2 separate regions of the Homo sapiens genome follow, and region 1 is linked to region 2. The links come from fine-mapping of genetic effects on gene expression. A gene starts in region 2. The other region holds a variant in brackets. All regions are shown on one strand. Distances are from middle to middle. Region 1 overlaps NUP205 (nucleoporin 205). Region 2 holds the start of STMP1 (short transmembrane mitochondrial protein 1).

The links.
Region 1: its variant is fine-mapped to the expression of STMP1 in prefrontal cortex (BrainSeq, PIP 0.95).

What each region holds. Positions count from the first base shown.
Region 1 is chr7:135,629,595-135,633,986 of GRCh38, forward strand. It overlaps NUP205 (nucleoporin 205), which reads left to right. Exons shown (of 43, transcript NM_015135.3): 35 at 750-876. Among named protein-coding and RNA genes, the nearest start is that of STMP1, 31 kb to the right of the region's middle. The variant C/CT (reference allele first, on the strand shown) is at 2,162.
Region 2 is chr7:135,660,237-135,664,628 of GRCh38, forward strand. It overlaps STMP1 (short transmembrane mitochondrial protein 1), which reads left to right and starts at 2,278. Exons shown (of 3, transcript NM_001130929.2): 1 at 2,278-2,358. The coding sequence starts at 2,344. It also overlaps the pseudogene RPL15P11. RefSeq lists a silencer at 2,153-2,372 and enhancers at 3,012-3,536, 3,537-4,061.

The DNA.
Region 1 (4,392 bases), 31 kb before region 2:
CAGCTCACTGCAACCTCCACCTCCCAGGTTCAAGTGATTCTTGTGCCTCAGCCTCCTGAGCAGCTGGAATTACAGGTGTGCACCACTGCATCTGACTAATTTTTGTATTTTTAGTAGAGATGGCATTTCACCATGTTGGCCAGGCTGGTCTCAAACTCCTGACCTCAGGTGATACCCGCCTCAGCCTCCCAAAGTGCTGGGATTACAGGCGTGAGCCACCATGCCTGGTTCCTATCTCTATTATAATAAAAATGAATTTTTTTAAAAAAAGAATTAGACAAAAGCTTTTATGTGATTTCCCCATGTCATGCTAGTTACTGTTTCATAGAACAGCTTCTTGAATTCACTAGTCATTTTTATACCCATTTATATTACATTCTTACTCTAGTTCATTTGGCCAAACAATAAAGAAAATAGGGGTCAGATAATAGTTTTCATACAGTAGTTCTGAGTTATATTCTTCTACAGTAGTCTCCAAATGTATTAACTTATAAGCTTTAAAATAATCCTTTAGTCTTGTGAATTTTAAATGTTTACTTCCTGAAGAGATAAATATGTGAGTGCAGAAAACAATTGCTTATCTGTTACTCATCCTCACTTATTGTGAGGCTGAGTATTGTATTACTGAGTATTATGGTAAAGTTGAAGGTTACTTCCTTCAACATTATTTATAAAATGAATTATGCATTTATATATAATTTTCTACTTCTACCTGTTTTTTCTATTCCTCTTCCTTTTCAATGGCTTAGGTATTGCAGTTTCTTATTTCACATTCTGATACCATACAAGCAATTCTGCGCTGTCAGGATGTTAGTGCTGGGTCTTTGCAGGAATTGGCTCTGCTGACAGGAATTATAAGTAAAGCAGCACTTCCTGGTGAGTTGATTATGTTGAAAGGATTTTTAATAATTCTTTAAAGACTGACATAAATTAATAGAATGAGTTTTTTTGTTACTTTGCAGCTATATATGACTTATTTGAAATTGGTACTGCTAACAGAGCCTTTATTTATGTAATAAGTTTATGTTTATAAAATGATACATGCTTGGCTGGGTGTGGTGGCTCATGCCTGTGATCTCATCACTTTGAAAGGCTGAGGCAGGATGATTGCTTGAGGCCAAGGGTTCAAGACCAGCCTGGGCAACATAGAGACACCCTGTCTCTACCAAAAAATTTTAAAAATTAGCTGGGTGTTGGGGCATTCACCTGTGGTCCTGGCTACTTGGGAGGTTGAGGTAGGAGGATTACTTGAGTTGGGAAGGTTGAGACTGCAGTCAGCCAAGATTATGCCACTGCAATCCAGTCTGGGCAACAGAACAAGACTCCGTCTCTGTTTTGTTTTGTTTTTTTTTTTTAAGATATAGGCTTATTATAAAAATATTCAAAAGGAGATAACTAACACTCAAAATCTCACCACCTAGAAATTACCAAATGTTGACATTTGATAAATTTTCAAACATTGCTTTATGTGTACGTACATATGAGAAAGGGAGGGGGAGAGAGAGAAAGAAAGCAACAGAGACATACAGAGGCAACTAATGAGAATAGGATGACCTTTTACATGCTGTTTTAAAAAACAAATATTTAATTTTACATGAATTTATTTATTTTTTTATTATACTTTAAGCTCTAGGGTACATGTGCACAACATTCAGGTTTGTTACATAGGTATACATGTGAATTTTACATGAACACAGACAAAAATCTAATTGAAGAGAAACGAAAGGAATTGCCAAATTCCAGACAAATGTTTCTTTACTACTAGAGTATGTCACCTTTTAAAAGATCACTGCGAGTAAGGAAAAACATTATGAAACATTATTAAGATACTTTGGTTACTTTCCCCCCTTATAATTTCTTTACTACATGTAAATTTTGAATCAGTTAACTCCCTGATGGGAAAGATGAAATGATGACTTCTTTTACACTTCCTCTTCCACCCTCAGATGATGTTTGCTTATATCATTTTAACCTTGTCAGGTTTTGTAACATTTACATCTGTTATGCAACCATAATATCCTCAGCTACTTAGTTTTAGTTGTATATTTACATGGATTCACTGCAAAACACCAGTTGTGTTCCCCACCATGGCGTCACCATTCACGAGTTCTTTCTTTTGATTTATCTCTTGGTATTTTTTTTTTTCTTTCTTTCTTTCTTT[C/CT]TTTTTTTTTTTGAGACGGAGTCTTGCTCTGTCGCCCAGGCTAGAGTGCAGTGGCGCGATCTCGGCTCACTGCAAGCTCCGCCTCCCCGATTCACGCCATTCTCCTGCCTCAGCCTCCCGAGCAGCTGGGACTACAGGCGCCCGCCACCACGCCTGGCTAATTTTTTGTATTTTTAGTAGAGACGGGGTTTCACCGTGTTAGCCAGGTCTTGATCTCCTGACCTTGTAATCTGCCCGCCTCGGCCTCCCAAAGTGCTGGGATTGCAGGCTTGAGCCACCGCGCCCGGCCTATCTCTTGGTATTTTTAATTTGTACTGAGGTTCCTTCCCTCAAGAAAAAGCATGCTGTCTCATATTCCTGAAATTCTCTAAGAATGTCTGAAGGTTGTCTTTGTTCTTTAATGACAGGACGGCCGATTATGATTTTCTTTTGCTTAGAATATGTAATATAAATGATAGTAGCTGGCATTTATTAAGCATGTATGTGCCAGGTACTGTTTTAAATACTTGACATGTTAATTGATTGGAAGACACAGCAGTCTTATGAGGTAGAACTGTCATTATCCACATTTTACAGCTGAGGAGGCTGAGGCACAGGGAGGTTAACTTGTCCAAAGTCACACAGATAACACTGCATAGTATAGAGTTTCCCAGGCAGTACGTCTTTTGAATCTATATATGTAACTACGAGGCTACACTACCTCCATTTTTATGTTGCTTTGGAGATGTCTGAGGCAACCTCTGAATCCACCCTATAATCCCCAATAATTTTTTTTGTCTGGGCTGTCTCGGTGGCTGAGCCCTCTGGGTTGAGAGACGTTGAGAGTTGGCCAGGGCTGAGTACAGTGCCAGCTGAGTTACTTGGAGCCTGTGCTTCTTCCAAGGAGATCCCAGGGTCTATTCCACCCAGCCTGTGGTGTGCTTCGTTCACCAGTTCATTCCAGTGTCCTAAGATGATACCAAGTCAGGCCACCCTTCTTGTCTCTACTAAGGTCCTGTAGTGTTGTGGGGTGGAACTCCTAATGGTTTTTCCTTTGATTTTTTCCAGGACTTAACTAATTACTCTCAATGTACTTCTGTAAATTGCAGGGTCTCCATGAGATTTTTTCTCATCAGCACATACAGCTCCTGCCCATCCTTTTTAATTGACTGCCTGGTTTTCCAGTTGTGAGATAGTTAACCAGACCCTTGTTTTATTTGTTTGTTTGTTTTTGTTTTTATTTTTGGGGGGACAGGGTCTCACTCTTGTCACCCAGGCTGGAGTGCAAAGCTGCAATCGTGGCTCACTGCAGCCTCGACCTACCTGGCTCAAGTGATCCTCCCACCTCAGCTTCTCAAGTAAGCAGGACTACAGGCACATGCTGTCACACCAAGCTAATTTTTTATTTTTTGTAGAGACAGGGTCTTGCTATGTTGCCCAGGTGTTCTCGAACTCCTGGCCTCAAGCATTCCTCCCACCTCAGTCTCCCAAAGTGCTGGGATTACAGGCAGGAGCCACCACGCCTGGCCTATTTGTTTGTTTTAGAGACTGGGTCTTACTCTGTCACCCAGGTTGGAGTGCAGTGGCATGATCATAGCTGGAACGCCTGAGCTCAAATGATCCTCCTGCCTCAGCCTCCCAAGTAGCTGAGAATACAGCACACACCACCATGCCTAGCTAGTACTTTGTTTTTTAATCAGATTCTATGACATGTTGACTGTTTCCAAGCTTCTTAAAATTTTAAACAGTGTGGCATTTAATAATTTTGTGTGTATATGTGTGTGTGTACTTATCTGTTTACCTCTAGCTATATATTTACATATGCATTCATGAACATTTTTTACATTTGTTTTTATTTTTATTACTTTTTTAATTTTTAATTTTTTGTTGTTGAGACAAGGTCTCACTATGTTGCCCAGGCTGGTCTCAAACTTCTGGCCTCAAGCAATCCTCCCACTTCAACTTTCCAAAGTGTTGGGATTACAGGCGTGAGCCACTGAACCCGGCCCCATTTTTGTCCATTTGAACTGATAAGACTTGATAAATTCCTGGCAGTACTTTATCAGAAATATATGTGCTTAACATTTTTGTTAAAAATAATACCAAATATCCTCCCAAGCTTTTGAAAACACTTTTAAACAAGTTATACTACTATCAACCCTGTTGTGTACAGTTCAGCCCTGTATTATCCTATAATTTGCTATAATTTATGCACATTTGTCTTAAACGCTCCCATTAGATTGCAGTTCTGT
Region 2 (4,392 bases):
CACCATGGTGGTCAAAAATGCCCAATTCCTAAGGGTGCAACTTATGGCAAGCCTGTCCATCATGGTGTTAACCAGCTGAAGTTTGCTCGAAGCCTTCAGTCCATTGCAGAGGAGCGAGTTGGACACAACTGTGGGGCTCTAAGAGTCCTGAATTCTTACTGGGTTGGTGAAGATTCCACATACAGATTTTTTGAGGTTATCCTCATTGATCCATTCTATGAAGTTATCAGAAGAAATCCTGACACCCAGTCGATCACCAAACCAGTCCACAAGCAGAGGGAGATGTGTGGGCTGACATCTGCAGGCCAAAGGAGCTGTGGCCTTGGAAAGTGCCATAAGTTCCACCACACTATTGATGGTTCTTGCTGGGCAGCTTGGAGAAGGCGTGATACTCTCCAGCTCCACCGTTACCACTAATATAAGTAAAGTTTGGGCCAGGCGTGGTGGCTCACGCCTGTAATCCCAGCACTTTGGGAGGCCGAGGCGGGCGGATCACAAGGTCAGGAGATCGAGACCATCCTGGCTAACACGTTGAAACCTCGTCTCTACTAAAAATACAGAAAATTAGCCGGGCGTGGTGGCGGGCGCCTGTAGTCCCAGCTACTCGGGAGGCTGAGGCAGGAGAATGGCGTGAACCCGGGAGGCGGAGCTTGCAGTGAGCCGAGACTGCGCCACTGCACTCCAGCCTGGGTGACAGAGCGAGACTCCGTCTCAAAAAAAAAAAAAAGTTTGTAAAATTCGTACCTAATAATTTAGGACAGTCATGTCTGCTTACAGGTGTTATTTGTCTGTTAAAACTAGTCTGCAGATTGTTTCATGAATGCTTTGTCAAATTATGAAAATTAAAGTGCAATAATTTTTGAAGACAATAAGGGATGGTGTATCTTGTTTCTAATAAGATGAACTTTTTTTGTCTTTGCTTTATCTTATTAGGGAGTTATATATCTTATTAGGGAGTTAGTGTTTAAAACATACTGTGTGGTATAATAGGCTTAAAATAAATTCTTTAAAAGAGAAAGAGAGAAAAAAACACACACATACACAGACCGGAAGACTGACAGAACAGACTCTTTGTGGCGATGATACAAATTGTCAACAGGACCTATGGCCATCCCAGGCAAGAAACCCAGCTAGGCCAGTGAAACTGAGAGCCAACCTGATGAGGCCTGCCAAATGCAACTTCTCTCACTTGTTTTTAGTCACCTGCTTTTAGTGGATTAAAAAACCCACATAGCTAAAGTCACAGAGCTAAACAATATATATCTAAGCTCCCACTATCTTCCTTATGGATAACATCTCTGACATCTGGGTTGCTTGATAAAGGTTTCTTGTTTTTCAGGAAGTTGGGGTCAGTTCTTGTACAGTTTAAACCACCAACCTCTCAACTGGGCCTGCATGAAAGCCCGATGGGTGTCCTTCTGACATTAGAGGGCCAAAACCTCCACACTCAGATCATGCTAAGGATGTCATTTTGTGACCATGTATCCTATAAAGAGCCATGAAGCTTGACTACCTCGCGCAGATAACCCATTGCCAAACTTTTCCTTACCTTCAACCGCCTTTCCCCACACCTCAGACCACCCTGCTCCTCTATCCCATAAATATCCCTAAAACCCATCTTTGGGGAGGCAGATTTGAGATCTGTTCTCCCGTCTCCTCGGCTGGCTGCCTGGTGAATAAACCTTTTCTCTGCTACAAAACTCATCATCTCAGTGACTGGCGTGCGGCACACGGCAGCATGGGCCCCATACGGTACCCAGCCTCTACCTTGATTACACAACACCTGATTACACAACGCTGATTACACAGCACACCTGCGGAGCTTTGAGAGCTACAAGCCTCCTTTCCTCCCCGCAAAGTCCAGCTGGGCCCAAGTAGAGGATGCTGCAAAAGCCCCCACGATTCAGCTGCGAACCTAGGGATGGGACCCGCTGCTCATGCCGTCCTTCTAGGTTAGAGAGCCCTAAACTGGGCTGTGTATCAGAATAGTCCGCGTGCTGAGAATAATATAGATTCCTGGGCCTCGGCCCAGGTTTACAGAGGCGGGATGCTCAAGGATGCCCAGCCAGGCTCGGGACTTGCTCTTCGCAAGTCCTGTCGCGCGCTCGCTGCCCCGCCGGTTCAGGCGGTGAGGCCAACGCGCTCCGCCAGGGGGAACCTGGGCGCTGCGACACTGCAAGTCGTTTCCGGGCGCGGGCTGAGTGGGAGGAGCGGGGCGGGGCGTGGCGTGACCCGGAAGTCGACGAGGGGTTCCGCCCCCCCCGCGCATGGGGAGGTAGGCTCGGACCGGCCCGCGGAGCTGCTGCAGTCCTTCGCGCCCTCCTCGCCCTCCCCACCGACATCATGCTCCAGTTCCTGGTGAGTGGAGCTGCCGAAGAGCGGGGCCCGCTGCCTGGGGCGTGCCTCGGACCCCATTTCCCCCTTGAGGATTGCCGACCCCGCCGACCCGGCCTGGGCGTGGGTCCAGCGGTCCCTTCGTCCCCCGCGCCTGGTCGTCGCCTCGCAGGGCGGCCGTTTTCTTCCTGCCTCCCCAGAAAATCCCTTTGCCAATATTTTTCTGCAGCCATCCAAGTCCCTAAAACTTTGAGGTGTCAGAGAGTGTGCGTTTCCAGAGCTTCTTATTGTGTGCCGCGCCCCGCGCTCATTGTGCAATCTTTGTATTAAAGCTTGTGTGGTCCTTGATGACTTTTCGTAGTCCGCCCCCCTTTCTTTCTGCGCTCCTGTTCCATTACATGGTCGCCGGCCGGTCCCTGCTGTGGAGCCCTGCTAGTTGGCTTTTCTGAGGAGGTAGGAAGGCCAGGAATAAACCGTAAATTAGCCACCTCACGAAGTCCGAGAGGCTAAGTCCTCATCAGACCTTTCAGAGTTGGAGGAATGAGTCAGACACTGGTATACAAGTAATTTTTCCCAAAATGTGTAAGCATGAGTAAGCAGACTATTTCTCTTGGCTCCTTATTTGAGTTAAAAACGAGTTTTCTGGCAAAACTCGGTATATTTCAAAAATTGCTTGGTGAAGGTTCCAGGAGTTGCTCATCAAATTTTCAAGTGAAAGTTTTTCTGCCAAGCTATTGTGCATTCAAAACTTGATGCTTTCAACCTCTATTTTTTTTTATTTTTTATTTTTTTTGAGACGGAGTCTCGCTGTGTCGTCAGGCTGGAGTGCAGTGGCGCAATCTGGGCTCACTGGAACCTCCGCCTCCCGGGTTCAACCGATTCTCCCTCCTCGGCCTCCGGAGTAGCTGGGATTACAGGCGCGCACCAGGATGCTCAGCTAATTTTTGTATTTTTAGTAGAGACGGGTTTCACCAAGTTGGCCAGGCTGGTCTCGAACTCCTGACCTCAAGTGATCAACCCACCTCAGCCTACGAAAGTGCTGGGATTACAGGCGTGAGCCACTGCTCCCGGCTCAAATGCTGTATCTTTTTTTGTTGTTTGTTTTAACGGAGTCCCGCTCTGTCGCCAGGCTGGAGTGCAGTAGTGCGATCTCGGCTCACTGCAGCCTCCGCTTCCTGGGTTTAAGCGATTCTCCTGCCTCAGCCTCCCGAGTAGCTGGTGCGCGCCAGCAGGCCCAGTTAATTTTTGTATTTTTAGTAGAGACGGGGTTTCACCCCGTTGGCCGGGATGGTCTCGATCTCCTGACCTCGGGATCTGCCTGCCTCAGCCTCCCAAAGTGCTGGGATTACAGGCGTGAGCCTCCGCGCCCGGCCCCAAATGCTGTATCTTTATCAAAGAGATTAAAACACAAAATGCACCCCTTTTGTCCTTTTGAAAGATGGTAATGGATTGTTAAATCCAATTAGTCAAAAGAGTGTCCTTAATCTGCCCAGCTAAGACAGGGCTGCTCCTTTGCCTCTAGGAGTTTCTGTAGTGTCCTAACTAGATGTTAGTTTAGGAGTTCAGAATAATGACAGTCATTTTCTTGTAGTAAACACTAGATTAAAAGCGGTATCACTTAGCTCCAGAGTATAGAATGATGTAATTGAGCTGCTTACTATATCTGTTGCTCATTGATAAACTGAGAGGACATGATTCAATTACAGTTAACTTTCTAAGTGGTTTTGCAGAATGAGTCTATTTGGTTTTGCAATAAACTTTTACTGTGTGTTAATTTTTTTTTTTTTTTTTTTTTTTTGAGACAAGGTTTCTCTTTGTCACCTAGGCTAGAGTCCAGTGGCACAATCATGGCTCAGTGCAGTCTTTAATTCCTGGCCTCAAGCAGCCTTCCCACCTCAGCCTCTTTAGTAGTAGCTAGGACTACAGGCCCGCACTACCACCCGTGACTAATTTTAAAATTTTTTTTTTGTAGAGACAGGTCTTGCCTAGGCCTCCCACAGTGTTGGGATTACAGGCATGAGCCACCACTGTGCCTGGTCAGATTCTGATTTGAGAATT